4 separate regions of the Homo sapiens genome follow, and regions 2, 3 and 4 are each linked to region 1. Evidence: fine-mapped expression QTL. A gene starts in region 1. Each other region holds a variant in brackets. All regions are shown on one strand. Distances are from middle to middle. Region 1 holds the start of PDE5A (phosphodiesterase 5A). Region 2 overlaps LOC105377397 (a long non-coding RNA gene). Region 3 has its middle 27 kb from the start of PDE5A. Region 4 has its middle 60 kb from the start of LINC01365.

What was found.
Region 2: its variant is fine-mapped to the expression of PDE5A in whole blood (TOPMed, PIP above 0.99).
Region 3: its variant is fine-mapped to the expression of PDE5A in whole blood (INTERVAL, PIP above 0.99).
Region 4: its variant is fine-mapped to the expression of PDE5A in whole blood (TOPMed, PIP above 0.99).

Annotation. Positions count from the first base shown.
Region 1 is chr4:119,623,898-119,632,008 of GRCh38, forward strand. It overlaps PDE5A (phosphodiesterase 5A), which reads right to left and starts at 4,907. Exons shown (of 21, transcript NM_001083.4): 1 at 4,623-4,907. The coding sequence starts at 4,774. LOC107986192 (a long non-coding RNA gene) reads left to right here and starts at 3,893. Exons shown (of 1, transcript NR_165235.1): 1 at 3,893-6,858. RefSeq lists silencers at 3,341-3,620, 4,841-5,240 and an enhancer at 3,751-3,800.
Region 2 is chr4:119,692,777-119,700,887 of GRCh38, forward strand. LOC105377397 (a long non-coding RNA gene) reads left to right here. Exons shown (of 3, transcript XR_939161.4): 3 at 334-753. It also overlaps the pseudogene LOC124900920. Among named protein-coding and RNA genes, the nearest start is that of PDE5A, 68 kb to the left of the region's middle. The variant T/G (reference allele first, on the strand shown) is at 4,503.
Region 3 is chr4:119,651,322-119,659,432 of GRCh38, forward strand. No RefSeq gene overlaps it. Among named protein-coding and RNA genes, the nearest start is that of PDE5A, 27 kb to the left of the region's middle. The variant T/C (reference allele first, on the strand shown) is at 4,342.
Region 4 is chr4:119,740,794-119,748,904 of GRCh38, forward strand. No RefSeq gene overlaps it. Among named protein-coding and RNA genes, the nearest start is that of LINC01365, 60 kb to the right of the region's middle. The variant C/A (reference allele first, on the strand shown) is at 4,325.

The sequences.
Region 1 (8,111 bases):
ACCACATTTTTAGGAATCATGTAGTTTAGGCTCTAACATGGGTCTGAATTTGAAACTTTGAAAACACTAGAGATAGAAGAGCAATGAGAAACATTATTTCAGGGGCTCCTATGGATTTCTCCAGGCAGGAAGAATGCAATCCAGAAGAGTGCTTCAAGGACACTAAAAGCAGCTTAGAGCTGGTTATATGGACCCTGGTTATGAACAACATAAGAAAAAAAGGCCATTATTGCACCAGAATTACCATTATAAAAATACTATAAACAATATCAAAGTTAGACTGGGTCAATGCTCAGAGGGTTTTATTATCATCAACACTAACAACTGCCTCACAAAATATGCTTAACAATTCATTTGTCTGAAAATTGTGGAAAGTTTATATTCCTATATAATTATAGAAACAATAATTTAAAAAAATACATAGCAATATTTATATACATAATCTGATTGTATTGTAAATACCGTGCAATAAAAATGCTACAGCTTTTAGAAGTGAGAGAAGAATTACAAGGAAAAAAAATGAAGGACGGAATTCCAAACACAGGACCAGGAACCTCAATTAATTCAGCACAGCTTTGCAGTATCAAATAAAGTCTATCATAGAAAGCTATATGGGAGTGTAAAACGTCTGTTTCTGGACTTTGATCCAAGCTGTCATAAAAACTTGCCCTCACTTAATATCTCTTATTTCCAGTATATGCCAAATATTCTCGAGCTTTTGCCTGTACAAAACAAAGCAATAAAGTCAATCATGTCATCCTTAACAATATTAAATGACCTAAAACATCACCCACAATCACAGAGCTGATTAGTAATTAATGAAAGGTAACTTTATTCTAATATGCTGTCAAGAATAACAACAGCTGTTAAGCAGCATTAGCACCAGGAAAGCTTCAGTTGTAAAAGGCATACGCATTAAAGCCCTCAATTAACACAGTAGCTGAGGCCTTCAGGACTGCAAATTGTCTACAATAGTGACCTGGGAGTTTTCCAGATGTGATTTATTGGCCTCAAATTAATTTTTATGCCAACCGACTATGTTCTGAATCATTCAATTGACACCTTCAAATGGACATAAACAGGTTGTGATAACTAAAAAGCTCCAAGTTATAGCTTTTTTTTTTTTTTTTTGAGATGGAGTCTCACTCTGTTGCCCAGGCTGGAGTATAGTGGAGCAATCTTGGCTCACTGCAACCTCTGCCTCCCGGGTTCAAGCGATTCTCCTTAGTAGCTGGGATTACAGGCGCGCGCCATACCTGGCTAATTTTTGTATTTTTAGTAGAGACGGGGTTTCACCATGTTGGTCAGTCAGGCTGGTCTTGAACTCCTGACGTCGTGATCTGCCCGCCTCGGCCTCCCAAAGTGCTGGGATTACAGGCATGAGCCACCGTGCCAGGCCCAACCTATAGCTTTTAATAAGATGCGTAGCTCTCTACTTGAAGACAGTGATAGTAAACAATGTAATATAATGGCATAAATGCTTTCAAGGTCAACCCAAATTCACAGGTGTTTGAGAATTTAGGAATGCCAGAACCTTGATGTTCAATAACTACCATTGAGTGTAGATCATTTAGTCTGAGAAAAGGATGGAAAATCATGCATGAATGTCGAATGACAACAATAATGCAGAAATTGTTTTTATCAGCAAGCCTGATTACTGGTGCAGATGGACGATCTGGGTGAATATAAATATATTTTAAATCTTAAAACATGCCGCATGCATCTACAGAACTATTTTGTTTCATGGGTTTCCTGAATCACATACAATATTCATTTTACACTTACAAAGTGTAAAAAGAGGGGAAAAGCAAAGTAATGTGAGCTCCTACTTTTAAAAAAAAAAATCCTTAGCTGTAAAGTTAAAACGTATGCAATAAGTTTTTACCACAAAATGTGAACCACACTGGGGTTAGTGGTTTGCATTTTTATAATCAACAAATGTCCATCCTCTTATTCACATTTTAAGTCTCCTGTTAATGCCACCAAATATAAAACCAAATTGGAATATTGTTTCATGAAAGACCTCTGGCTACACACAAATTCTTAGGTTATATTCTTTACTCTGACAACTCTCAGCACTTTATTATAACTCTTAAAATTGAGGACCTGCACTATTAAATATTTTACACTTTCATTTTCCAACTTACACTCAACATAACCTCTTAAGAATATGTATACACACATACATATATATATCACAGAAAGTGTTCAGCCTGTTGCCAACATCAACTGTAATTTAAAAACTCTAACCGAAAATTTTTTAAAAGTTTTTTTAGAGCCTCAGATGATCTAAATTTTACAGTGAGCATGGTAAATTTGAGAAATAGGATTTTGATCCTATGCTGCTTGGGAGAAAAAGTAATGGGAAAAGAAATGTAACTCAGCTCTTTCCATTTATTTTCCATTAAAATGTTGCTACACTTTCAAAGTGTTGGTAGGTTCTGAAAATGCAGTGTTCCTATCTATGACTAGTCAAAAACGACCAACAAGCCATCCCTAGTTTACATCTTTAAAAGAAAAATAGGGAACGAAGAAAGGACATTTATGCTGATTTATTAAACAATAACTTTTTTTCTTTAAACTGTTTATAATCTGCCTAAAGAACAGGTCCAATACATACTTTTAAAAATCGGCCTGGTTCTCTGGCCCCCTGATCATTCTATGCGCTGTAATTCAAGGAGAGCAGAAGGCTGGGAATGCGCAGAGTGAAAGGAAAGTGGGTGCAGATGGCCTCAGAGGGGCAGGTGACCCCTGAAAACTGTTAGTCGACAGCAACCGATCATTCTAGACCTCCATGGCCTTAGTGTCTCACGCTAAACTCGCAAAAAAGTGCCCTTTCAGGGCTATCCTCTGGGCGCTCAAGATTTAGGATTTTGAAGGAAGAAGGTGAAAGCGGGGGAAGACGATTTTAAAAGAAGGGCTGGGTTATTAAATTGAAAAGATTAATCCCGGAGCCTTCCCCTCTGTCAAAAAACCCTGAAAGTGACTAAATTGACACCAACTCTGGATGTTCCTTAGGAAAAAAACAAAACAAAACAAAACAAAACAAGATTAAAAAGGGCCCAATTTAAGACCCTTATTAATACATCTGCAAGAGAGCAAAGAATAACAACAACAACAAAAGTTATACAGTCAATTTTCAATGATACATCGTCCCACTGGTGCCACCGGGGCGCCACCACCCAGCACCCGAGACCCGCCGCGCCCCCGGAAAAAGTGGGAAGGGACGTAGGGGGATGCTGAAGGAAGTACCTTGTTTTGTCTCCAAAGGGCAACATAGCAAACGTGGGAAGTTCGTTTTCGAACTCCGCCGATCCTGGACTCCAGGAGGCTCCGTAGGGGCAACAACGCGCGCAGGTGAGGTGAGGTGAGGTCGGCGACTCAGAACCAGCTCCCTCACGGCCCCGGCCTCCGCGCCGCCGCCCGTCGCCTCCCGCTCGCCCCGCGCTGCGCCGCCCCCTGGCGGGGAGCGACCGGCAGAGCCGCGGCCGCGCGCCGGCGAGTGGGACCCGGGCGTCGAACCCGGGCGGGCTCCTCGACCATCACTGCCGGGCGTGTGTCACCCTCCCGGCCAAGACGGCCAGCACCCGCTGCCCGACGGCCGCTGCCCAGAGCAGGCGGCAGCGGGGCACGGACTCTTTCTGCAAAGGGGCGCGTCCTGGAGTCCACGCACCCCGACTATGCATCAATTCCTCAGGCTTCGGGGCACCCGCCCGCCAAGCACTCTCTGCTCCACTCTTCTTGTCCCTCTGCTCCCAGTCTCAATTCCTCCCCAACTCTCCCGCGAGCGTTTCCCACGAGCGCCCCGACTGCCCGCTGCGCAGCCGCCTCCAAAAGGACAGGCTCCCTCCTCCCCGCCCTCCGCAAGGGCCGCCCCGGCGCTTGGCTCTGGACCAGAAAGAGCTGGCCTCTGGGGTCTGCGCTGCCCCTTGGGGTCCGCTCCAGGCGGCGCCTCCCCTGCGCCCTTTGTGTGCACGCCGCAAACCCCTCTGCAGAGCTCTACTTTTGGCGGCACAGCCTTCGGCGGAAAAGCGAGTGAAAGGAGGCGCGCGGGACAAGCAGGAGACTGGAAGGGGGGAAAAGGCAACCGCACTCACTTTGGCAAGGTTCCGTCATGTTGCCTTTGGGCTGTCCCGTGGACTCGTCCCTCACCCCAGCTTCCCCGCCCAGCCAGGGCCAGGGCGAGGGGGGACGGGGGAGGAGCGGAGCCATCAAGACCGACTTGGAAATGGTGCTTCCGGAGCTGCAGGGAAGGGGCTCAGAAACTGTTTGGGTTTTGCTGATTGGATTTTGGGGAACCAGAGGGCTAGAGAGGGGCTAGGGGAAGGCCCGTGAGCACGGATGTATGAAAATAATCATGTTCCCGGGGAATACCAAGAGGGTCGGGGGTGAGGGTGGGAGGTCGGCAAGTACATTTTTGTATTTGAACTTTGTGAGCAAGTTGTATCAAATCCGACACTTGAGTTTTTCGACTGTGCTCGCTTAGAGTTGAGGTTTCTACCTCGTAACAGGACCGAGGACCTACTTCAAAAGCAAAGGGCCTGGGAACAGGGGTGAACGAAGGGCACAATTCAACAGGGGAGAGAAATCAGCCCCGGGTCTTCCGTGGGTCCTCTTCTTACCTGGTGGCTTTTCTAACAAAGTATGAGAAGGTAAAGTCCCAGTGATCGTCCAGCCATGCTTCGACCGAGTCCTGATCCCTCTGCTGCTGCTTCTGCTGCTGGGGCTGCTGCTGCTGTCGCTGCTGCCCGAAGCTGGGGCCGGCCCGCTCCATGGTTGGCACCGCGCGCCTCGGAGGCTCTCTGGTACTGCTTTTCCACCCCAGCTGGGGTCCGTCCCTCAGAAGAACAGGACTCGGCCTCGAGACCCTCCCCCTTCGTCCTGCTCCAGTCGGGCCGGCTTTCGACAAAGCGGCCGGAGCGCCAGGCCAGCCTCCTGCCCCGCCCCGCCCCGCGCGGTTCTACGGGCGCCCAGGTGTGGTGGGCGGGGCCAGGCGCAGCTGCTGCGCCCCCCCCACCCGGGGTCCGGCAGTGTTCCGCTCTCGCAGGCTCTTCAGTCCCCTGGTTCCCAGGAGGCGGCGGCGGCGGCGGCAGCGGCAGCGCCCGGCGAGCTCTCCGGAAGCCAAGTGGCGGCGGCTGGAAGGAGGCCGCGCGGCCGCTGGGGTGCGCTGTGTGCCAAGCCGACTTCTGGGGAGCGCGCTAGGTGACTGGGTGTGTTCTCAGAGTGCCCCAGGGAGGGAAGGTCGCGATGTGGGAAGTTTTGCCCGAAAGTAAGAGATGATGAGACCCTGGGCCCTTTTCCTGGGGCCTGGGAGTGCAATGACCTTCCCGCCTAGCTTTTCCCTAGCCCTACGCTTGGGTCTGGGAGGAGCGGGACCGACCTCCTTCAGAGCCCAGCCCGCTCAGTGACTTAAAGCGGTCCAGCCACGGACCACTGCGGGTGGAGAGAGCTGGGGCGTGTGCTAGCAAGAGAGATTTGCAGGTGTAGGTGGGTAACTTGCAACAAAGCCATACCCGTGCTTAATGTTAATGATAACAGCAATAATTATAACTTAAGTGCCTTTAACCATTGCCTCAAACTTCCCTTATGCATAACTGGAAAAAGATTTACTTGGAAAAGAAAAAGCAAACAAATAATTTCCAATGCTTTGTGCATGAAGTTAGAAAACAAGGGCACCTCTGTACAATTAGGTTAATCCGAGAGCACTGGCGCAACCCAGGTGCAGTCGAGGGCAACCAGTTATCCCAATTTTAAATTAATGCATCATTTTAATTAAATTGGAATTAACACTCCCTCAAAAGTATCCATTAAAAATGGCTCAGCCTTTTTGTCCAATCCCTATCTTGCTTCTTTAAAAAAGGAATTGGTGTCATCCTTTGCTTTGTCTGCATCCCCATCTTCCTGTCATGCATTGGCAGTTTTAATATGGCATTTTGCAATGACCTATATTTTTTGGTAGAATTAAATCTGGAATTATGGGTTGCACAATGTGTGAATGACACCATTAGCAGTGATATAAAAAAAAATGAGTTAGCTGATATACTTCTGACAACTTCCTTCTAAATACTCTTGGCAAGAATTTAAGGCATTATTCACTACATAGAAACACATCATTAAATTGATAATCTGAGAACTTTTAAAAGTATCTTCTAGTCCCCCAATGCAATGGTTTATCTTTCCTTCATTGAGTAATTGACCTTTTGCGACTTCAGTTTTTCTGAAACTTTACTGCTGTATGCAGGTAGCCACAACCAAAGAAAAGCAATCAAAGCAGTAGAGTATGAACTAATGGGTGATAAATTATATTGGATTTAGAAATGAGAATTCTCTCCTAATGTGTTACTATGATAGTGATTATAGTGCTCATGGAATACAGTCATGCGTCACCGAACAACAGGATACATTCTGAGAAATGTATCCTTAGGCAATTTCATCCTTCTCTGAACATCACAGTGTACTAACACAAAATAGATGGCTCAGCCTACTACACACTTAGGCTATTGCTCCTAGACCACAAATCTATACAGCATATTACTGTACTGAATACTGTAGGCAATTGTAATGCAATGATATTTGTGTGTCTAAACATATCTAAACATAGAAAAGGTACAGTAAAAATATAGTATTATCTTATGGGACTCATATATGTGGTCTGTCGTTGACTGAAAAGTGGCACATTACTGTGGAAAGTTTCTCCTCAGTACAGTTTTTTCTTGTGGAAATCCATGCATTCCTCCTAACAGGAGATCAATCGTAATTTAAAACTCTGCTTATCTACTAAAGATGCAGTGAATTTGGGGCTTGAATTATTTGCTTTTGTTGGATACTTGATTAAATAAACACGTATAATCATTTCAATGTTTGTATTCCCTCCAAAATTCATGTTGAAACTTAATCCCTAATTCAACAGTATTAAGAGGAGGTGCCTTTAAGTGGTGATTAGACCATTAGGGCTCTGCCTTTGTGAATGCATTAGTGCCTTTTTAAAAAAAGGCCCAAAGGAGACAGTTGGCCCCTTCTATTCTTTCCACTATGTGAAGACACAGCACTGACCCTTGCTGAGGATGCAGCAACAAGGTGCCATTTTGTAAGCAAAGAGCAGCCCTCACCAGTTGCCAAATCTGCTGGCACTTTGATTTTGGAGTTTCCAGCCTCCAGAACTGAGAGAAATTAATTTCTATTGTTTATAAATATCCCAGTCTGTGATATTTTATTACAGCAACACAAATGGACTAAGACAGTGGGTAATATCAAAATGTTCATTTTTCTCTCCTAACCTGAAAGGGTTAAATTATCAGAAACCAGGAAGGTTTCTGAAAAATTGCTTCAAGAAAAACAATCTATAGGCTGGGCACAGTGGCTCATTCCTGTAATCTCAGAACTTTGGGAGGGAGAGGTAGAAGGATACTTGAGCTCAGGAGTTTGAACCAGCCTGGGCCACATGGCATGACCCCATCTCTACACAAAATTTTTAAAAATTAGCCAGGCATGGGGGAACACACCTGTAATCCTAGTTATTCGAGAGGCTGAGGCAAGAGGATTGAGCCCAGGAGGTCAAGGCTGCAGTGAGCCATGATCGTGCCATTGCACTTCAGCCTCAGTGACAGTGTAAGACCCCCGGCTCTATAACAAAAAAGAAAAAAAAAGAAAAACAGTACATAGATTCTCTCAATAGTGAATCTCAAGTCTGTGTGGTATATATGATAGTTTGGGAGTTACTGTGAAGGCCTATTACCTGAGAAACATATCACAAGGGATTGGGGAACAGAAGTGTCTCAAACAGTTCTAGTCTCTGGGAGATTCAGCCAAAATGTGTAACTATACCTCCTGTAAATTTAAAGTAGTTAAAGGTAAGCATATTTTGAACTGACATTACCTGGGCCTCTTGTTTTTCAACTCCATTTTATTCTTTATCCCAATTTGCCCAATTATTTTGTTTTAACTTGGCATGAATTGTTCTAAGCACCTCAAATCTTGTTATGGAATTAGTTGAAGAATAAGTAAATCATAAACACTCCCAGGATATAACTTGAAAAATGCTGTTAATGCTATTTATAACAAACAAATGAGCAATGATGTATGTATGTGTATATGTATGATATATATATGTG
Region 2 (8,111 bases), 69 kb after region 1:
TGTAAGCCACAAAAATGACCCCTCACCAAACACATCTTAGTCCATTCCTATGTAAACTAGGGAAGTATGTCATTCTTTTGTAGAATCTATATCTATAGTATTAAAAATAAACTGGGTTAGTGACTTAATTCTTGTTCAATGATTCCTTTATTTTCCAATGTTATTTACAATTTTCAATACAATGGCATGCTTGCTTTCTTGAAATAAAGCTGAAATAAAATAACTGTAACAATTTTTTTAGTGCAAAATTTCAAATGTCCATTCTATTAACTGAGACAATAGAGGTCAAAGTCACATCAGGAATTAAACATATCTTTCTCCATTTATTCCCAGGAATGAAAGAGAGAGAACAGATCAGTGTTCAGTTTGAAAGAGCCATAATTCAGCAGTCTTTCTACATTACCTCTCAGAAGAAGGAGCCTGCATGTCTAAAGAGAGAAGTGAAGTTTAAGTACTGGAAAAAAGGAAAGTCTTCAGCCTTGGGAATGTAATAACCTGGGGTCAGCTGAGAACCCTGAGGAGGACTGACCCAATCAGCTGCTGGGAGAAGCAACATAACTGTTCTGCTGGAGGGAGAAACAAATTCTAATCAGATGTGAACCAACTATCCAGGGAGCTTCTGTTGTCATGAGAAAAGGAAGTGCTCTTCCTTTCAACTGGAAAACTAGAATGTACCACTTTTTTTTTTTTTTTGTTAATGCTCCCTCTTTTCTTTTTTTATTAGCTTTGTAATAAAAATTTAATTTAAAAGTTGATATGCAAACAAGTGTGTAACAATCTGAATATTTAACATTGATAGATCTATTTTAGAAAATTAAAGTGAATATATCTGAGTTTTAGAGTTTAATGTTTACTGCACACAGGATGAAACAGAAACTAAACTTTGTTACATTTTTAAAAAATTCTTTAACTTCAGTTGGATTTACTATTTGTAAAGTGAAAAGAAACTCTTTTTCTCCAAAATTTTTGTCCTTTACTGAGTGACTTTAGAAAATTGATTTCACTATTCCAAGTTTTAGTTTTTTATTCAGAAATTAAGAAATATGTCAGTATGTGTCTATTATTACTATAGATCGCTTCTTGGCCTTTTGGCTAAGATCAAGTGTATTATTATTATAGAATGGGTTCTCAGATAAAGAAAAAACTAAGAATTTTCTCAGATTTTTGGGAGTATTTCATTATAAAAACAAAAACTATGTAAGATTAAATTGATATTACCTTTTCAATGGACTCACTTGAAAAAGAGTTACAAGATGCAATTTGAGGAGTTTTACGGGCCAATGTTAAGGCTAGGCGTACATTTTCTATTTTGAAATCTCTGGTATCTTTGTGGTACCCAGAATATGTAGTGAGGTAAATAGATATCACCTTAAGAAACAGAAAAAAGAAAGAATAAAAAGAAACACCTTCTATTTCTCAATGCTTATTAACTAAAAATGCAAAATTTATTCACATTTTTCAATAGAGGGGTCATATGGTTTGACACATCAAATACCATATAAATAGTGGTAACACCAAACAGAGGCTTGAGGGCCTCTTTTAGTGCCCTGCCTCTTCCTACAGCCGCTCCACAAGATTTCATAATACTTTTTCCATGTAGACAACTGACATTTTCTCAGTTATATAAAAATTATCTTTTGAAACACTTCTATTTTCATTGATCTGTGAGTTGTGGTCTAATTAAAAACAGGTAAGACACGTTCCTGAACTTTCCCACCCTCTACTTTCTTCTGCCCCTAAATTTCTCCATGTGAACATGAGATTCCAGCAAATACTTCAATGAATACGGAAACATAAATTTGAGTGTTTATTGTCTTCAAAGAAAGCAAAAAGAATAGTGCCAGTGTATTATAAAGACTCATACTTTCACGCAAACAAACTCCTTACTGAAGGAAAAGGGACAAAGATCATTTCTGGAGAACGGAAAGACTCAAATAATTTTATCGTCCATGTTCCACAGACGATTGAGATGAAGTCATATCATTATAACTAAGCTTTTATTCTATCATTTTTATATGTATGTTTCATAGAAAAGCTATATGAGAAAATACAGAAATGAGGGGGATTGTCTGTGTTATTATTATTTTTTAAAAATTCTCGAATTGGCGGCCAGGCGTGGTAGCTCACGCCTGTAATCTCAGCACTTTGGGAGGCCGAGGTGGGCGGATCACCTGAAGTCGGAAGTTTGAGACCAGTCTGACCAACATGGAGAAACCCCGTCTCTACTAAAAATACAAAATTAACCAGGTGCGGTGGTGCATGTCAGCAATCCCAACTACTCAGGAGGCTGAGGCAGGAGAATAGCTTGAACCCAGGAGGTGAAGGTTGCAGTGAGCTGAGATTGTGCCATTGCACTTTAGCCTAGGCAACAAGAGTGAAACTCCATCTCAAAAAAAAAAAAAAATTATTGAATTGGCTTGGGTTTTGACAGTTTCTATCCACCACTGACTTCTATACATCTAAACCTCACACATGCAGCCTGGCCAACATAGTAAGACCCTGTCTCTACAAAAATAATTTTTTTTTTTTAATTAGCCAAGGATGGTTGTGCACACCTATAATCCTAGCTACTTGGGAGGCTGAGGCAGGAGGAGTGCTTCAGCCCGGTGAAATAGAATTGCACCACCACACTCCAGTCCATGATCACACCACTATCATCCAGCTTGGTCATAGAGCAAAACTCTGTCTCTAAGAAATAAAATAAATACATGAATGAATAAACAAACAAAACTCACACATATCGGGACTAGAGGAAAAACAGAGTACATTTTTTGATCTCAGAGACTGGTAGATAGGAGTAATTAAGCAGATATTAGCCTAAGGAAATACTCTGTTTAAAATTTTCTTTTACAGTTATTTGACAAGAAATCTTAGAGTCCTCACTTTCTGGGAGCTCAGAGAAAGGTAAAAGCCTTAGCTGAATTTTAATCTTTCAATCGTGTCCTTATTGTGAGAAATGACACAACTGAGGTTGAAATGCCCATCTGAGATATCCCTTGAGATACAGCTTTAGTTCTGTTTCATCAAAAGCATATTAAGAAGTCACAATGTGTAAAACATTGTAGTTTGGGGATGGATAGAAAGAGGAATTAGACATGGCCTCTGGTTTAAAAGGAGATTTTAATCTGGTGAGGAGACTGATTGGAGAGAGTATACAATCAGATTTAGGGAGTGAATGAAATAGAAGTTGTGGGGAAAATGCTGAAAGTGGTCTAAGTAGCCAAGGCTGCAATTGTGGTTCTGATAGGCAAAGTGTTATTGTTGGGGATGTCTTTTAATCCCTCTCTTTGCTGAGTGCCCTAGGAGCTACACTGCCTAGGTCTGAGGGGGATACTTGTAAATAAATCCCATCTGAATTGGGAATCAAGAGCACCCATTAGTCTGCACAAATATCAAGTATTTTTACAACATCTATAGTCTCAGTGGTTCTTAAACCTTGCAACTGTGTGTATCTTTTAGAAAATGTAAATAAACTAAGATCTTTTCTCATAGAAGTGGACAAAAAAAAAAAAAAGCACACGAACAAATTCAAGGACTTCTTCCTAAAGTCCTTAGGCAAATCATCTAATCTCTCTGTGTCTCAGTTTCTCAATCTGTAAAATAAGAGTGATAATACCTGCTTTATTAAGTAGTGGGGAGAATTAAATGGGAGAATTATATAAAGTGTCTAGCACAGATCCCAGGGCAAATGTGCAATAAATGACAGCCATTATTATATTCTTTCTTTCTTCCTTTTTACTATGAGACTATGCTGTTTCCTTAACTGTGACTGATCCTATCACAGAGACAAGGCTGGGGAGTCAAATAAGGGACTGGTCACCAAGTAAGGCAAATGAAATAAAGGGGATAGATGAGATTCATGCCCAGGCAAAAATATGATAGAATAAGGAAATCTGAAAACTTTTACAGGAAGTCATCTGGGGAAATGACTAGGAGAATATGTAAAATAACAATGAAGATGCTGTTTTAACTGTAGCTATATTGTGAATTTAATATAATGCTAATGCTAATGGTATTAATTTCAAAATCGATGGCAAATGCACACTTATGAAGAGCTTATTATATGCCAGGCATTGTGCTTAGCTTGGCTTACATAGGTCACCTTTTTAAATTCTCATAATATAAAATAATACAGCCCCAAATACCCCATCTGAAATTCTAAAATAAAAAGCCTCTGAAAACTTACATTTTGCAATGATTGATTCAGTAGCAAAACCTGAACTGAACTGCCAGAGGGTGTTTTTAGTCTTTATTTATCTCACTTAGAGTGAATATTCATGCATTTTGAGGCAAAAATCTTAATATTTGGTCATGGTGTTTTCTGTGACCTCACTGGGGTAATACTCCATAATTCCATGTGGACTCTATCCCTTGTGTACAATAGTCCAAATTCCAAAATTCACCTTGCCACCAGGATTTCTGATAAGGTAGGGTGGGCCTTTGAAAACAGTAACATTTATTGATAATTTGCTGTGTACTAGGCTTTGGTTCAAGTCTTATGT[T/G]TATTTATTTTATCCCCATAATAATCTTCAGAGGAAAATATACTTATCATCTTTCCTGCTTTACAGTTGAGGTACAGAGAGGTCAGGGAACCCAGGGTTACCAGACAGTAACTCAGAAACATAGAATTTGAACCCAGGCCATCTGCATCTGGGAAGATTTTGCTGAAATACTATACATAATACTTCATTTATATTATTGTAATTGTTATCCTTACTTTATAGCTGAAAATGCTGAGGATTAAAGATCCACTAATTTAACCAAGATAAAGTGTCTGTGTGATCTTGAGCAAGTTACTTAATCTCTCTGGGCCTCAGCTTTCCATTCTGTAAAATGAGGGTAACGATAACCCATACTGCATTGTTGTGGGGATTAAATGAGTTTAAAGCAATGAGAGCAGTGCCTGACATACCTCACGTAATCTATGCATCTTAGATCTTACTACTTTTTACAACTAGGCCATGTGAATGCTAGGAGAAAAGAGAAGGATATGATGGAAGTCAATCCTCATGCAAAGATTTACTATAGAAAAGGTAAAAAATAATATTTTTCAGGTATTAAATCAGTGTTTTCTTTATTTTTTGTTCCTTAGTCCGTAGGTGTATGGTAGCTGCCTCATTTGTTGAATCAATCACCTGGTGAATGGCATGTATTGATTCAGGGTGAGGGTAGATACAGAACAAACAGGTCTTTTATTCTTCTCTGAGTCCCCAGGCTGACATTTTTTAATCGATTGCAAGACTAGTCATAAAGCTACTCTTTGTTAAAGAACAAAAGCGTTTTATGAATCCCCCATATTTCCCTTTACATTCAAAAGCGTGGGCTTGGTTCTTTCAAGTCTTAGAGTATTGTATTTACATGACGCTAAAGCATAAAGAAAACTGAGACTATATTGCAGGGGAAGTTTCTTTATGACAAGAAAGGAGAATTCCCTTTCACTAAGGGAAGTAGAATTTAGAAACTAGAGAAAGAGAATGGGAGAGTTATAGTTATGAGTGACTTGACTCACCTATTTGGATACTAGTGCCCTTGGGAGAGAGAAGGGGGAATGTGGTAAACTCTTTAGCAAAGCCCTGCATTTAGACTGGTGTTGGTACTATGTAGCCTCTAGGCAGAAGAGCAATGCCTGAGGAAGTGTTTCAAGGCCACCAGAAAGAATTCTGCATTCTATGTCATGGTGAGGAAAATCAGCTGATGGCTGCAGGGTCACCCACAAGGGTGGTAATCAGTAGAGCAGACAAAAGATTTAGATAATCAGTAGAGCAGACAAAAGCCACTATAGGGACTTTAGAACTAGGGAGCATGACAAGATCCAGAGGCATCCACAGATGACATCTCAAAAACACAGGACAGGACCAGACTAGTCAGACCTCAGAAGGCACTGGTGTAGGATATCCAAGATGAGAGAGGGAAGGGAAAATCCCAGCAAAAGACAGCGCATGGACCAAAGGTCTCTCTCTTTGCTACCATGCTGACTGGGACCCCAATGTCAGTTATAGAGGAAAGAGAGTTAGGAGAGACTCTGTAGTGGTGGAGAAACAGTTGTGACTAATTTATGTTGACTGGTTTCCTCCCCCAAATATTTTAAAATCAAAACAACCTCAGTTATTATAATTTTACTTGGTCAATTTTATTCACTTTGCTGGCTAGTAGAAGGAATTGGACTCCAGAGATTATGAGATCAAATAATAAATGCTTTTTATTATTTTTACAGCTGAAGGTACATTTCAATTTTATTTTTATATTTCAAAAGTATGACAGGATTTTCTTTTTTTGTATTATACTTTAAGTTCTGGGATACATGTGCAGAACATGCAGGTTTGTTACATAAGTATACACGTACCATGGTGGTTTGCTGCACTCATCAACCAATCACCTACATTAGGAATTTCTCTGAATGCTATCCTTTCCCTAGTCCCCTACCCCCTGACAGGCCCTGGTGTGTGATGTTCCCCTTCCTGTGTCCATGTGTTCTCATTGTTCAACTCCCACTTATGAGTGAGAACATGCGGTGTTTGGTTTTCTCTTCCTGTGTTAGTTTGCTGAGAATGATGGTTTCCAGCTTCATCCATGTCCCTGCAAAGGACATGAACTCATCCTTTTTTATGGCTGCATAGTATTCCATGGTGTATATGTACCACATATGGGCATTTGGGTTGGTTCCAAGTCTTTGCTATTGTGAATAGTGCTGCAATAAACACACGTGTGCATGTGTCTTTATAGTAGAATGATTTATAATCCTTTGGGTATATACCCAGTAATGGGACTGCTGGGTCAAATGGAATTTCTGGTTCTAGATCCTTGAGGAATTGCCACACTGTCTTCCACAATGGTTGAACTAATTTACACTCCCACCAACAGTGTAAAAGCGTTCCTATTTCTCCACATCCTCTCCAGCATCTGTTGTTTCCTGACTTTTTAATGACTGCCATTCTAACTGGTGTGAGATGGTATCTCATTGTGGTTTTGATTTGAATTTCTCTAATGACCAGTGATGATGAACTTTTTTTCATACATTTCTTGGCCACATAAATGTCTTCTTTTGAGAAGTGTCTGTTCATATCTTTTGTCCACTTTTTGATGGGGTTTTTTTTTCTTGTAAATTTGTTTAAGTTCCTTGTAGATTCTGGACATTAACCCTTTGTCAGATGGATAGATTGCAAAAATTTTCTCCCATTTTGTAGGTTGCCTGTTCACTCTGATGACAGTTTTGCTGTGCAGAAGTTCTTTAGTTTAATTAGATCTCATTTGTCAATTTTGGCTTTTGTTGCCATCACTTTTGGTGTTTTAGTCATGAAGTCTTTGCCCATGCCTATGAGTATGACAGGATTTTCTAAAATGAAACTCCATTCTAAATTATGTCAGAGTTTGGCCACGGGAGATAATGGGGATACATAATCACCCTTCATCCATAAACAACTAGAAAACTAGACAAAGTTGAGGAAATAACTGTTTTATGATACTTGATAGTAGGTAGCATGAGACGGTGAACCTTGAGGAAAGAGAAACAAATGAGTTGAGCCATACCTTTGCCCAGACTTTCTACCTGCAGTTAATTTCCATTGCAGCATGCACTAGGAAGAGAAATCCAAACAAAGCTTGGTGATGTCAGTGAGTTGAGGAGAGAGAAATAGGCATCTGGGGAAGGTAAGGCAGTTAGGATTTGTGGAGCAGATTACTGAGAAGGAAGAAGTTATGCAGAAAAAGTGTTCCAGGAAGCTTCATAGGAATTCCATTGAGTCTTCGGCTGAATGTCAATCTACAAAGACATCACTGGATGTGAGCAATTTCAGAGAGAGAAACAACTATGAAGGAGCTGTAAGCTGAACAATCCCTGGAGCTTACAAAGGTCTGGGAATCATCTGAATTCCCACAAGCCAAAGTGAAGAGACTTTCATGAATATATGATGCATGTAGCAGAAACCTAGAAGAACCTCTCATTAAAAGTGAGGCTAAAAGAGCACTACAGTAAAGGTTATCTAGATCCACACTAAAAGATATAACAAAACACAGCACCCTAAAATGTAAAACTACAATGTACAACATCCAGGAAAAAAATTCCTCCATATGTGAAGAAGCAGGAAAATGAGAATCATATGTTGAAGAAAAGT
Region 3 (8,111 bases), 27 kb after region 1:
GTCTGCATCAATAGGCATTTCCCAAAAGTTGCTTATCTTTTATTGAGGGAACACTTTTTATTTTTTATTTATTTATTTTTTTTGTGACAGAGTCTTGCTCTGTCACCCAGGGTGGAGTGCAGTGGTGCAATCTTGGCTCACTGCAACCTCTGCCTCCCAGGTTCAAATGATTCTCCTTCCTCAGCCTCCTGCATAGCTGGGATTACAGGTATGCGCCACCACACCTGGCTAATTTTTGTATTTTTAGTAGAGACAAGGTTTCACCATGTTGGTTAGGCTGGTCTCTAACTCCTGACCTTGTGATCAGCCCACCTCAGCCTCCCAAAGTGCTGGGATTACAGGCGTGAGCCACCGCACCTGGCCTGTTGAGGGAATACTTTATGTCAGACATGGCCCTAAGATTTTACACACCTCATCTCATTTAAACTTTCCCACATTCAGTAAGGTAGATTTTCTTTCCATTTTATAAATGAGGAAGTAGGTTTACAGAGCTTAAGAATTTCTTCTAGATGTTTATGAGGATGATCTCTAATCATATAATGGGTTGTATAAACATCAATTAAGGTCACACAAATCAAGTGACAAGTGAAGTATGAATACTACTAGTAGGATGCTTAAATGTAGCTAGTCTAGGGACAAAATCAAAATATAATATAAATAGAAGATGTAATGTAACAACAATTTGAATATCTCTTATTTTGCGACAATAAATCACTCATTCCTATTAGCAAGTAGCTCAGCATATCCATCTTAAACTCCACCTCCTCTACCAATTTAACATGAATCATACATGTGTCAAACATGTATAATAGATGTATTTAAAAACGCCCAGTATTATGCATTAAATATAGGAAGTGCTTGTTAAAGTTTGGTTGAATAAAGGTTAGCAAATATATACTTTGAAATGCACAGTAACAAATAGGGGAAACAAATGGAATGTTTGATACCATTTCCAAAGTTACAGACTGATTTAAAAAATAGTTGCTACAGAATGACTGACCTGGTATGTATCCCCTTTCAAAAAAAGTTTAAAAGCACCCCATGAACTTGAAAGATGGAATTGCAAAAAGTCTCCCAACTCTGAGTCATTCTACAGCTACAGAATAAAAATCCTTTATGTATGGAAGAGTATTGCTTTTGATTTTTGGAGGGCTACATTTTACATGTGACCACCAATCACCATTTGACATAGACATTTCTGCTCTCTACTGGCATTCATTATTTTCCTTCATCTAACAATATCCAGGCCTTATGCAGGTATCTTCTACTGTCTCACACCTCACATGGGCCTAAGGAGGACCTGACTTCACTGCTGGATCCAGGGATGACTTTGCTGTATCTAAGGCTAAGTTCATTCCTAGAGCCAGTGATTGGTACAGAAGATGATGTGTGACCCAATTAATAATATTAGGGTGGATTTTCAAAGGATTCTTTGAGAAGCATTCATCATTGTAATGAGAGAGATTCTCAGTGTGACCCTCTTCTTCGAACATTGTCAGGATCCTTCTATAGCTGTTTTGCTACTACCCTGAACATGAAGCTTCTATTAAGAACAGAGAAATGAGCTAGAACCACAGAATAAAATCACCTGCCCTCCTTCTCTTCTTCCAGAAGTAAAATATTTCCAGTCTCTCTTCTAGACGAGAAGCCAATTAATACCTGATTGTTTAGGCTAGTTTGAGTTGGGCTTTCTGTTATTTGTAGGTGAAACTATTCTAACCGATACACCATCCACATTTTATTCTAATCAACAGTTCTGCTGTAAATATAACTCTGGTGTTGAGTCAATACAACACATTAAAAAAAGACAGGCCTGACTCATGGTATCAAAATGGTAGGACTGTCTTGCAAACCCAGAAGTTTATACATAGGGGCCTGCCAAGTCAAATACAGCCCTTCTGAAGACCACATTAGTTTAAAAACTTAGCAATTCAAATATGCCTGTGCATCTGAAGTCATCAAGTTCTAGTTCCCTAACATTGTATATTGTATGTTTTGTGAAATTATATGTATCCTGTGATAGCAGGAAACTCAAGTAATAATTTATTTGGCAAAGAAAAGTGAAGAGTGAAGATGGGTACATAATTTATGTATGAATTCCTGTATAACCTTTGCATATTTTAACACCATATGGAATTACTACAATTTTTTTAAAAAGGCTTAAAAGATTTTAAAAAGCCAACAAATTAAGCCAAGACCACAAATTACTTTTAATGCACTTTTAAAGACCACTGGAATCACAGCCATTAAAATTTATTTCAATTAGGAATGATACTTTTTAAGCTCAAAAACAACATTTGACCCTTAAGTAGATGATGAAAATATACATAATTTAAAAAAGATATTCTGAATTTAAATGATCACAGAGCTATCAATATGGGGTTTCAAATTGAGACTATCTTAAGCAATTAACCTAAAATGCCATGTGCATTTTGTTCAAAGACCTAGCAGGGAAGAGCAATTAGCAATTTGTGAATTATCATTTTATTTATATTTATATTCCAAAAGTAAGCTCATGCCTTGAATATACTATAGAGTATAAAATAGGAACCTAATTTACTTAAAAACTTTAAAAGTTTTTATCTGTTAAATGATTACTTATGGCCTATAATCAAGTTACTATATATATTTTTTAAAGCAATTTTTGGGCCAGGTGCAGTGGCTCAAACCTGTAATCCCAGCTACTCAGGAGGCTGAGGTAGGAGGATTGCTTGGCATTCAAGACCAGCTTGGACAACATAGTGAGATCCCCATCTCTTAAAAAATATATTAAAAGCTTGGTAGGCTAAGGCAGGAGAATCACTTGAGCCCAGGAGTTTAAGCCTGAAGTGAGCTATGATTGGTCACAGCACTCCAGCTTGGGCAACAGAGTGAGACCGCCATCTCAAAAATGAAACAAAAAGCAATTAGTTTTTATGTCTTCTTAAGTTTGCTTATTTTCCATCCCAACTAGTATTCATGGCGTATTTATTTGGAGTAAAGTGGTAAAAACTAATCCCGCTCTTATGAAAGCTAGAATATTGGCTTTTGGAATTCCAGAGAGATTTCGTCTTAATATTTTGCATTTACTAAAATAAACAATAAATTTATCTTTTAAATAATTCAATAAAAAGTAGGACATCCAATCTGTTGGTCAGAATTTTTTCACTGTGTTGTCCCTGATGAATCTTATAGCAACTGTTTTCCAACTCATCCTTGAACTCATAGTTCATTATGTTAAACATTTATTACATCATGTGAAATAGCTACAATGTTGAAACCAAATTAGCAGATATTTATTGACTATCACTATATACAAAGTGCTTTATTTAAATACAATTATTTTCCCTGTTGGACTTAAAAGCCCAGATTATTTAAGCCACATTATCCCCTTATAAAAGGTAGAAACAGCATCCAAACCTTTTAATTTAAAGGAAACCTAATTATTAACTGTAAAGAAAATGTAGTTGCAAAACAAGTCAGTAAAAACCTGAATAGGTATGATAATCGTATCCACTATTAAGTTTAAATTTAAGAGATAAAATATCTCCTAAATGCCTTTTGAAATCCAAATCACCTTGCTTGTTCAAGCCTTTCCCAGTATCTAGTAAAAATGTGACTCTATTCAGATAGATTTATCCCGTATATTATTATTATGATTTTACAAAAGCTAAAGGATTTAGAATTTATAAAACTGTTTTTGCTGCTTTAGGACCCAAACGGGCAATGTTCTAGAAGGGCAGGTAAGTCATTTATTGAGAATAATTCAACTATTCATAGGATCCATAATGTTTTTTTAAGATTTATTCATCTATTTGTGTATTCATTGATGAAGAATTTTGAATACTTCCTATCTAAAATCGTCATTATTTAAAAGCGATTTGTGAAAATATACTATTACTGGGAAGATAGCTATTAGACTATTTATTTTCCATTCATTTTGCAAGGAAGTGTATCCCTCTGAGCTTGTTTGATTTGGATATGTATCCCTAAAATAAATATTGCTATGATGGCTTCCTGTTTAACGTCAGGCTAGTCAACTGACCATAGAAATCCTGCAGTTGTATTAGAAGTTCCTTCACATGGATTCCCATGTAAATGCTTTCATTATTTGGTATGTTAAAACCAACTGCTTCCACCTATATTCAAACTTTTATAGCGTTTTGTTCTTACACTTACAAAGAGACTAGAACTACTTTACAAAGATAATACTATTATTTTTAAATAATGATACTATGTCCCATTTAGATCAACATTTAACATATGCCACATTAATTTTGAGATGGATATTAAATTAGCTATTCTGGTTTCCTGGTTCTTGGCAAGTTATTTATGACTCTCTTTTTTCCTTATCTGCAAAAT[T/C]ACATTCCCCCAAATCTATTACCCTTCCTACAGCTGGACCCACATGCTCTGCCTTTCCTGCCATTCTAGGGGATAAGCATGGCTCTTGCCTCTCTGCTTGTGTACCAGGTCCTGTTCCTCCTTAATTTCTGTGAGCCTTTGCTGATCCCCTGCCTCTTCTGTATAATCACACTTTATTTCATCCCCAAAGCATCAATACATGCTGTGATACCTTCCAATCTTTTATATATATATGTATGTGTGTGTGTATATTACACGTAATATATATTATATATATTTATTTATATTTATAAAGAGCCCTCCCTCCACTCCACATCCCACCTCAGCTTTGCCCATTTTTCTGCTCCCCCTTTATGGTAGAATTCCCTGTTTTCTCTTTTCTTCTCCTCCTCATTCTCTGCCTGGGTCTTTTACCTGAACCTCCTTGATTTTTTTAAGCAATATTTCTACAAAATGTTTCAAAACAAATATCTTTCTATACCTGTCAGTTTGTAGAATTTTAATAAAATCTTACATAATCTTATCTGGATATGTAAATCCCATTTAAGCAAAATTGGAGTCCAGCTATCTATTTACCCATCTATGTAACTTTTTACATATTCTTTTTAAGGTATTTGCCAAATTTATTTTACTCTCTCACAGAACTCTCTCTCTGGAACTCACTGCAGTTAGGCTTTCTTCCCTTCCACTCCACAGAAAAGCACTCTTTAAGGTCACAAATGACCTCTGTCTTGCCACATCCAGCATAAAATTCTCAGTCCTCATCTAACTTGACCTATCAGCAGCATTTGGCACAGCTGACCATCCCTTCACCATTTTCTTCATTTGGTTTTCAAATCACTACACTGATCTGCTTTGAGCCCTATTTCACTGGCTGCCTTGTCTGTCTTTGTTGCTTGAGCTGCCTCTGCCTCCTGACCAGGACTCAGTCTTCAGCTCCCTTCTCTCTATTCATACTTATTTTCTGGCAATCTCATCTCTGAGCTGAAAACTCCCAACATAATATGTCCAGACAATGTTGAGAAAAATGGATTTTTATTTCTCATTGTGATATACAAACAATTAGAAAAGATTTGATAGCACCTCTTTTGATTCCATATTCCTCCCCTCACCCTGTCTGCTATCCTTGGAAGCAAATATGATTTTTATATGCTCATTTATTTGACAAATACTTATTGAGAAATATGTGCCATCTCTGTACTGTCTTACCTCTAATCTGGGCTTCTGATGGTTTCTGTCCTTTTTTCTGTTTTTCCTGGGCAACCTCATTCATTCCCACTACTTGAGGTATATTCTAAACCCTCTCAAATTCATATCTCCAGCCCAGACTTTCTTCACTGAACTGCAAACTCAAAGCTCTGCCTTCTAGGTTTCTTATACCTGGAACAGACACCTCAAATTCCATATTAAAGTTTAAATGCAATTTGATTACAAATTCAAAAAACACAAACAAACCTTGTTCTTCCTGCCTAAGTCAGAGATGAGTCATTCTCAATTCCTCCTCTTTCCCCAGTTCACATGCCTTTCTAAGTACCTCTGTAGCTGGTCACCTTATCTTTATTCCACTTCATCATTTCCTTGCCTTAACCATTTATTCTCTAAGGATCTCCTGGACTCCATTCTTGGATTCCTCCAATTCTTGCCCTACATTTCTGCCAGCATAATCTATCTAAATTGAAATCTGAATATTTCACATCCTTGAACAATATCTTTGATGACTCTATCTCCCATGAGGGAGGTTATGGTTGCTTTCATTGTAAGAATAATACCTCTTAACCCTCATCAGCTTGTCTGCAAAAGCTCTTATGTTCTGGCCCAACAGAAAGACTTGCAGATCTATGAAGCTGAAATGCTCTTCCAGATCTCTGTCTTGCATGTGTTACCACAACTTGAAATGCTTGGCCTTCACCTTGTGTGTCTGGTGAATATGCATTCTTTCATCAAGACTCAGATGAAATTATACTATCTTTGATGCTTCTTAAGCCCTGATGCCACTCAGATGTACATCCTCTCTCCTCTGTTATCATACCTTGTATAGATCTCTTTATTTATTTCCATGTATCTCATGTCATGTCATTATTTGTCTGTATGTCTGCCTACTCCACTGGACAGGAAAATTTATACAGGAAGAAACCATGTATTATGAAGCTTATAATTTTAGCATTTTTATTTTTATTTCATCTTTTCTACAGAACAGGGAACAGCTGATGTGCACTATCCTTTTGATGGATATTTTATAAGCTGAAGAAGTTTAGATTATAAGACAAAATTTCTTTTTCTAAAAGATAATAGTTATTTTTCTAAAATTAGTTACTTCCCACATATACAAGTTTTTCTGTTAAATTGAAATATAATTCATATACCACAAAATTCACCTTTTTAAAGTGTATGATTAAGGCTGGGTGTGGTGGTCCACACTTACAATCCCAGCTCTTTGGGAGGCTGAGGTGGGTGGATCACTTGAGGTAAGGAGTTCGAGACAAGCCTGGCCAACATGAAGAAACCCTGTCTCTACAAAAAATACAAAAATTAGCCAGGCATAGTGGGGCATGCCTGTAGTCCCAGTTACTCTGGAGGCTGAGGCACAAGAATCACTCGAACCCGGTGGAGGTTGCAGTGAGCCGAGATCACGCCACTGCACTCCAACCTGGGTACTCTGTCTCAAAAATAAACAAACAAACAACAAACAAATAAAGTATATAATTTAATGGTTTTTAGTATATTCTAAAACAAAATCATGCAACCATCACCGCTATCCAATTTCAGAACATTTTCATTACTTTCAAAATAAATCCTGACCCATTTAGTTGTCACTTCCCACTGCCTCCCATGCAGCCCAACTAATCGACTTTCTGTCTTAATAGTTTGCTTATTTTGGACATTTAATATAAATGAAATTATACAATATGTAGCCTTTTGTGTCTGGTTTCTTTCATTCAATATAATGTTTTCAAGGTTCATCTATGTAGTAACATGTATTATTTCTTTTTAGGACTGAGTAGTATTTCATCATAAGAGCATACCACATTTTGTTTATTCATTCTTCAATTGATTTTTCCACTTTTTGGCTATTATGAATAATGCTGCTATGAACATTCATGTGCAGGTTTTTGTGTAAACATATATTTTAAATTTTCTTGTATATTTAGGAGTAGAATTGCTGGGTCATATGACAAATCTATGTTTAACTTTTTGAGGAACCACCAAATCATTTTCCATAATGATCACACTATTTTACATTCCCACAAGCAATGTATGAGGGTTCCAATTTCTCTACATCCTTGCCAACACTTGTTATGGTCCATCTTCTAAATTATAGCTGTCTTAGTATGAACTGATATCTTATTGTGGTTATACAGGATTTGATAGCATCCTCCCATAAAAGGGTTATAAAAAGTTCCATTCTCTCTAAAATCAGCAAGTGAATATTTCATTTTATATTATGCTGAAATAAGTGGGAGTTACACATTTCAGAAAACAGAACAATCCTTTTTCTTATCTAAGCATCTTTAATGTTTCATAGAGCTTGTCATATTTTAAATTATTTCTTATTCTTCCTAAGATTGTCACTTATATTTCAATTTTTTTTTTGCAGTATAAGCCTCCCAAATGCAAACTTCTGAATTAAGATTTAACCTATGTTAATTTAGAGGGGAAAATATTTTCTAGCTTTCATCTTCCCATCCATCCTACTTGTAAGTGTTATATGACAGTATATAGTTAGCGATGGGGATAACACAGTTAATTTATAGTCCCTTGTGACTCTTTAG
Region 4 (8,111 bases), 120 kb after region 1:
TGGGTTTTGTATTACAGTTTGAATTAGGGATTAGATAACCTTCTGACAGAAAGTAGAACATGATTAGAAAAATGCAGTTTCGGCCCGGTGCGGTGGCTCACGCCTGTAATCCCACCACTTTGGGAGGCCGAGGCAGGCAGATCACGAGGTTAGGAGATCGAGACCATCCTGGCTATCACGGTGAAACCCCGTCTGTACTAAAAATACAAAAAATTAGCCAGGTGTGGTGGTGGGTGCCTGTAGTCTCAGCTACTTGGGAGGCTGAGGCAGGAGAATGGTGTGAACCCGGGAGGCAGAGCTTGCAGTGAGCAGGGATTGCGCCACTGCACTCCAGCCTGGGCGACAGAGCGAGACTCCGTCTCAAAAAAAAAATAAAAATAAAAATGCGGTTTCAAAATATGCCTACAAATTAATACATTTGCTCATAAGAGTTCCTGGAAGAAAACAAAACAAAACAAAACAATACAAAAATAAAGCAAAACAAACAAGAACACCAACAACAGCAACAAAACTCAGAAACTCAATTCATAAATCAGGAGTTGATCAGAGATTTTGGAGGATCCCAGTAAAATTCACATGAGTCGTCAAGGGAAATGCCATTCTATCACTTTTGAAATGACTTTCATTAGCTGCTAGACCAGTGGTTCCCAGTCTTTTTGACACCAGGGACTGGTTTCATGGAAGACAATTTTTGGATGGTTTCAGGATGATTCAAGTGATTACATTTATTTTGCACTTGCACTTTATTTCTATGATTACTACATTATAATATATAATGAAATATTTACACAACTCACCATAATGTAGGATCAGTGTGAGCCCTGAGCTTGTTTTCCTGCAACTAGATGGTCCCATCTCGGGGTGATGTGATGGGAGACAGTGATAGATCATGGGCATTAGATTCCCATAAAGAGCATGCAACCTAGATCCCTCACATGCACAGTTCATAATAGGGTTTACGCTCCTATGAGAATCTAATGCTGCTGCTGATCTGACAGTGGTGGAGCTCAGGTGGTCATGCAAGCGATTAGGAGTGGCTGTAAATACAGATGAAACTTCTCTTGCTTGCCCACCGCTCACCTCCTGCTGTGTGGCCTTGCTTCTAACAGGCCACGGACAGGTAGCAATCTGTGACCTGGGATTTGGGGACCCCTGTGCTAGACATTGATAGTTACTCCTAATTCCTATTTCCAATCTACCTTGGTGGAGCATACTACTCTTCTATGAAGATTCAGAGGAATATGGTGTTACTGTATTCCCATTTCACAGGTAATAAAACTGAGGCATGAAAGATCAATGTGTTTCCCTGGACTTGCACAGTTTCCTGAAGCAAGAATATACAGCTGGGTTGGAGAAGTACTTTCACAGAAGGCTACTTTAAAAAAACGTATAATGCTTTGAAATTCATTAAGCCTATTTGCAATAACTTACATACTTTAGTATTATACAAATATATATGTAAGCTCATTGGAAATTTTGGCTGTTATGAATTAAAATCTAATTTGAATGTGTAAAAATAATTTGTGGGAAGGCTTTGCTTGCTACAACTGAGATTTGCATGTAAAATATCTTTTATTTATAATATACTTTGCTTTATTTTTTCACCTAGTTGTTAAATATTTTGAAATATAATTCTAATGTAAAGTATCATTTCTGTGCCTAGGAAACTATGTGAATACTCTTCCATATGACTTAATTTTGTATTGACTCTGGCTGCTAATTACAGTCTGCTTTCCTCCAGTTAGTGGCCACCAAGATGCTGTTCCAAGATGTTTTAAACTCATGTTTTCACAGTGCCCTCTTTCATGTAATACAGCTATTATATTTTAAAGGTGATTGTCCACTTTAAAAATAAAAGATGCCAAAGTAAATAAATAGGAGACACTACGTTATTTATTCCACTGGATAGGAAAGCTGGAAGAAACTCGTGGGATCATCCAGTTGGGCTCCCAATCCTTTCATTTGTTTTTGTTTTTTTGAAACAGTCTCGCTCTGTCGCCCAGGCTGGAGTGCAGTGGCCAGATCTTGGCTCACTGCAACCTCCCATCTGCCAGGTTCAAGTGATTCTCCTCCTTCAGCCTCCTGAGTAGCTGAGATTACAGGCACCTGCCACCACACTCAGCTATGTATTTTTAGTAGAGATGGGGTTTCACCATGTTGGCCAGGGTGGTCTCAAACTCCTGACCTCAAGTGATCTTCCTGTCTTGGCCTCCCAAAGTGCTGGGGTTACAGGCTTGAGCCACCGCACCTGGCTCCCAGTCCTCTCATTTGTAAAGATAAGGATGCTGAGTCTAGTGAGGTGGAGCAGCTTGCCAAGCCCACACAACTAGTTAAGGCAGAGCCAGCATCGAAGCCCACATCTCTTGGCTCTCAGTCAAGTCCTTTCCACTGTACTAAAGGAGACCATATTTAGAAAAGATTAAAATGCTGAAATTTTCTCTCCACATCTGTATTTTAAAGAAAAGGAAATCTCTAATATGAATTATAGTCACTATTTCCAGTGTTTAACTGAAAAATACTGGAGCTCTGAAAAATTTTCAGGTTTGTCCTTCATAATCTACATGGAAAATAATGAAAAAGCCAACTCCACCTCCCGCTATGAACATACTGCTCACTGTCTGATGTACTGGGTGTACAGCTGCTCTGAGCCTTTCTCTTGAACACCCTTCTATTTATTTTATTGCAAAGTTATTGTGGATTTTGGAATCAACTGAAGTATTTCTTAGTTTACAACAATGTTGTTCAAGGTTCACCATTAAAAATCATAATGGTAAAAATACTAACAGCCCTTTCCTCTATTAGAAATAATTTGAAAAGTACCTTAAGATAATATTTCAGAGGAACATTTCAACTTACAGCATATCTGACATTCGTCATCTTAATGCCTGGAAAAGAATTCTTGTCAAGAAGGAGTTTGTTCTTTTACTAGTAGGAAGTGCATTACTCTAAGTATATATGCTTGCTTCAGCTCTCTGGAGGATCAGAGTAGTAATAATAATATATTTCTTGAGTGCTTACTAACTGCTAATCTCTGGAATAAACCTTTACATGCATTACCTCATTGAATTCTCACAGCTACCTCATGAGATTGTTATTATAATCCCTACTTTACAAGTGAAGTAATTAAAGTTGAAGATCATCAGGTTGATAAATGGCAGTGACTGAAATTTAAGCAATCTCAGTTCAGGCCCTAGCTCTGTGTTAGCATGTGAAGTCTCCTGAGGAAGAGACTGCTTCCCAGGCTCGACATTATTTGGTTAGGGCCTTGGTCAGGAAGGACTTTCTGCATGGAGTAATGACCAGGTTAAGACCTGAAGAGACTACAGTGGTGGAGTACATGGGCAGTAGGCACAGACGGCAGGGGTGAGTGTCTGCTTTGATATTTACTACATCTTTCTCTACGTTTTCATTTCTTTGTGTAATGGGAAATTCTTCATATATCCATAGGTTTGCTGTGAGAATGGGATAAGGTCATCCTTGTAAAGTGCTTTACACAATGGTGGGCACATCATATGCACTCAAAAAAGCTTAGCTATACATATACTTGATTGGTACTAAAGACAAAAATGAAATTTTTAGTCCATTGCCAATTTCTCTATTAATTATTTAGTCCTTACTCAAAAAGTATATTTTTACTGTTATTCTAGTCCTCAAGGGAGCTGAAGCAAGCATATATACTTCTTTCTCAAGAGAAAAGAAGTTCCGAATGGTAATCTGGAGGCTAGGGGTGAGAGAGATTTGCTTTCTGCTTTGAAAAGTCCAGCCTCTCATTGAATCTTACTTGTAGGAAAATGAAGCAGCCAGTCAGCAGGTATTTGTGTAGGATATGATAATAGAAACTACAATAAGATGGAACATAACTTGGATATGGTCCTAGCTCTCAAGAAGCTGAGGAAGAGGCATGCTAGCAAGGGATACCATGGGCAGAAACGTGCACAGTCATTACAGGAGCTCATCATTGAGGATGAGGTGTGGGATTCTGGGCAGAGAGCCGCTGACTCAGAGGAAGTACTTCAGGACAGCTTCCTGGAGATGATCAAATGGTTATTATACGAAAAGATGGGGGAGCCCTATTGAGAGTCAAAGAAGCTGTTCTCTGCACCTAGGATATTTCTGGCAAAATGTCTGGGATAGGAATTACAATGAAAAGACAACAGCAACACAACACAGATCTTTCCTAACACAAATGAAGGCTGGTGGTTAGGGTACAGAATGAAATGATGGAATGAGATGAGAGTGGTTGGATGAAATATAAGCATAGGTTATAGAGTCCTAGAGAATATGGTTTAAACATGACTTGGAGCCAGAAGTAACTAGCAAACAA[C/A]TAGAGATCTAAAGAAGATTTCATGATCAGGCTCTCTCTCTCTCTCTGTCTTTCTCTCTCTCTTGCACCCAATTCCAGGGTTTTATGTTTGGAATACCTCTCTCCCCACTTCTTCCTATTCCCTTCTCCCTCCCTGGACTAATTCATGCAGAGTCTTCAGGTCTCAGCTTTACATCTTCCTTTAGGAATTCATCCCTGACCATAGAGACTGGGTTAGGTATTTTCTTGTAGGTCCTAATGATGGCCTCTGCTTACCTCATCAAATCTGCTTTTGTTTTCTACAGCTGTGTAATAAATTACCACAAACATAACAGCTTTAAGAAACAAACTTTATCCTCTCACAGTTTCTGTGGAGCAGGAGCTCAGAATGCTTTAGCTATGTCCTCTGCTCAGGGTCTTAGAAGGCCAAAAGCAAGATGTTGGCCAGATGAGTCCTCATCTGGAGGCATGACTAGGGAAAGATTTGCTTCCAAGCTCCCTCAGGTTGCTGGCAGAATTCATTTCCTTGCAGCTGTAGGACTGATGTCCCTGTTTTCTTGACAGCTGTTGTCCGGGGCCCACTCTCAGTGCTGGTCCTTGCTGCATGGCCCTCTCTTTAATATGGCAATTTGCTTCTTCAAGGCTAGTGGGAGAATCTCTCTTCTCAACCTTCTATGACAGAGTGACGTTACATAATCACAGGAGTGACTATCCATTACCTTTGTCATATAATGTAACCTAAGCAAGGGAGCAAATATCCTATTATATCCATAAGGCTTGTCCATACATAACAGGAAGAGATTGTACAGGGTATGTATACCAGGGATAGGGGATCTTGAGGGCCCTCTCAGAATTCTGTCTACCACAATATCCTTTGTCACATTGCATTATAGTTGCCAGCTGACTGAGCTCTCAGAGAGACTATATCTTAGTGACCCTTATAGTTTCTGCTTTGCATAGTGCTTAGCAGATACTCTCTTCTTAGTAAAAATTTGTGGAGTCACTTAGTAAGTGTTGACAGGTCAGTTTAGATAGTAGAGAGTATGGAGGCCTGAAGAGGACAGATTTCAATAATTTATACATTTAGTAGAAATAGGTGAAAAGATGCTGTTGAATGGCAATGAAGAACACAGAAACTGAACTAAGTCCAGGGTCCATAAAATCTGTTAATGAAGATAGCTCTGGTGATGGGGAAATTGAGTGCTCTAATTTTGGAGGTAGTGGTTATGTGATGATACTCACTTAGCAATTTTGGTTAATTATATTGCATATGCTGTCGAATGGGTAAGAATGAACAGTTCCCAGTAATTGTGCTAAAGTGTGGAAAGCCGTCATAATCATTGCTTTAAAAAACTGTATATTTAGGCCAGGCACGGTGGCCCATGCCTGTAAAGCCAGCACTTTGGGGGCCAAGGCTGTGGATCCCTTGAGGTCAGGAGTTCAAGACCAGCCTGGGCAACACGGCGAAACCCTGTGTCACTGAAAATACAAAAATTAGCCAGGTGTGGTGGCACACTCCTGTAATCCCAGCTACTCCAGAGGCTAAGGCAGGAGGATCGCTTGAAACCTGGGAGGCAGAGGTTGCAGTGCCAAGATCATGCCACTGCACTCCAGCCACGGCAGCAGAGTGAGACTCTGTCTCAAAAAAAAAAAAAAAAAAAAAAAACTATATATTTATTTGAGCTTTTTCTCTAATCAAAGCACATGGCTAAATCTGTTGGAGGGTGTGTCAGGGCTCAACCAAAAAACTATAGAGAATTTAAACCAGGGAATTGGGTTATGCAAGTGATGGGAACTCTGAGAAACCAAAGAGCGGGCAGTGAGGTTAACCAGAGATTAGCAACACCAGAAAGCCACTATCTTCTGGGGTTACAGAAGGAGGAGGCTGTCATACAGGAGCTTAGGGACCCTAGTTACAGGCAGATCCTGGAACTAGAGTAGGTTGTCCTGAGCAAGAACTGGGATCATAGAGGAGAGTGGGCTGTCTCCAGAGATGCTGGCTGACTCAGAGAGAGGGGAGGAATGCCCTGGCTTCTCCTTCCCTCCTACTCTTCAGTCTTCAACTATTGCCTCCTAGTAATTGAACCCAGCTGAGGCAGTCAATGAGGGAGCAGAGAAAATGCAGGCAGCAGACAGCCGCCCTCTTCCCGGGCATCTCCGAGATTCAGAGCAGAAGATGAGAAATAGACCCATTAGCAAACAAGCTCAGAACCAGCACAAGGACATAAAGATGCATGCCAGGCATCTGTCCTCAAGGGCCTTACATTGTAGAAGAGGAAAGGAGACATGCACGCAGTTAACCATAACACAGGGGAAATCAGCACTTTCTAGAATAGTAATTGATGACTTTTGCAATGGCAGTCTGAGTGGCATCATAATTAAAAACAAACAAAAAACAAAATTGTAGGCATTCAAAATGGAGTTTGTATACGGAATTAAATCAGGTATTAATTGAATTTGTATTTCACATTATAATCAGCAAAAACAAAAAGTAAGTTTTAGAAGAAATTTTGGAATATATGTTTATATGTATGGCTTAATGGAGGAGATTTAAAGATAGGCAACCCAGAAGCTATGAGATAGATACAACTGGTTATACACAATATTTTAAAATTATGACAAAATATATAAAACCATATATAAAGGTAGAATACACATACTAAATTGGGAAAGAATGTTTCTAAGAAATGATACAAAAAGAATCAACACCTATAATGTGTCAACAAAGTAAGAGAAAGACAACCAAATAAAAAAATTAGCAAAAAGTATTGGTAATTCATACAGCAGAGTAAGAGACTATGGTTCAATTTTTGTAAAGCAAAGCATTTTTTTAAAAAAATCCCTCCTTTCTGGTTTATGAAAATGCAGAGAAATATGACAGATGGCATACCTGGCTGGCTTTTTCCATTATTTACTGGAAGGGAGGAGCAGAGGGGTATGGAAGGGAGGACCAGGTCATGGGAGAGACAAGCAAAAGCCAAAGGAGTCAATAAGACAAGTTTGTACAACATATGCAGTGTAAACATGGTCCCATTTATGGGACATCAAGATATTACTTAGCTATTTCTCTGCGTATTTTCTAGATATGGGCAGAAAATTGAATTTGCAGGAACCCAGCTCCTACATCAAATATATGTGCCCTGCATCTGACAGTCTTCTGCAATGGAGATAAATGTGTTTGTTGTTCATGTTTAAAAAACAAACAAACAAAAAACACTAATACTTGCTGAGATAGGAAAAAAGTGGACTGATGTTTCAATTCATTTTGAAGTGCATAAAACAAATAAGATGGATTAATGGATGAAGGGAGGGATTGGTAGATGTGGAATAAAACAAGACAGTTAAGATGTTAATGGTAGAATCTAAGTGCTGATGGTATGGGTCTTCACTGTAAAATTTTTTCAACTTATAAGTATTCAAAAAATTTCATAATAAAATTTTGTGCATTAATTAAGTACAGCAGAACTTAAATTGTATAACAGGGAACTTCAAAAATTTTGTGGAAAAATGGAATTAAAAGGTAAAGGTAAAAAATTTAAACTTTATATCTCAACATAAGCTCCATCAAATTTAAGACACTTGTGTAGGTGATAATATCAGTCATTTAGTTTATCCCTAAAGAACTGAGGGTCCTGGGAATTTAACCATGTCAATGCAGTCTTTTTTATATTATAAACTGAAGAAAAATAAGTGCCTTTTAAAGATTTCTTTTTTTTAAGATTAGGAAACAAAAAGTAGCGAGAAGGAGCCAAACAAGGACTGTAAAGTGGATGTCTAATGATTTCCCACTGAAACTCTCACACAATTG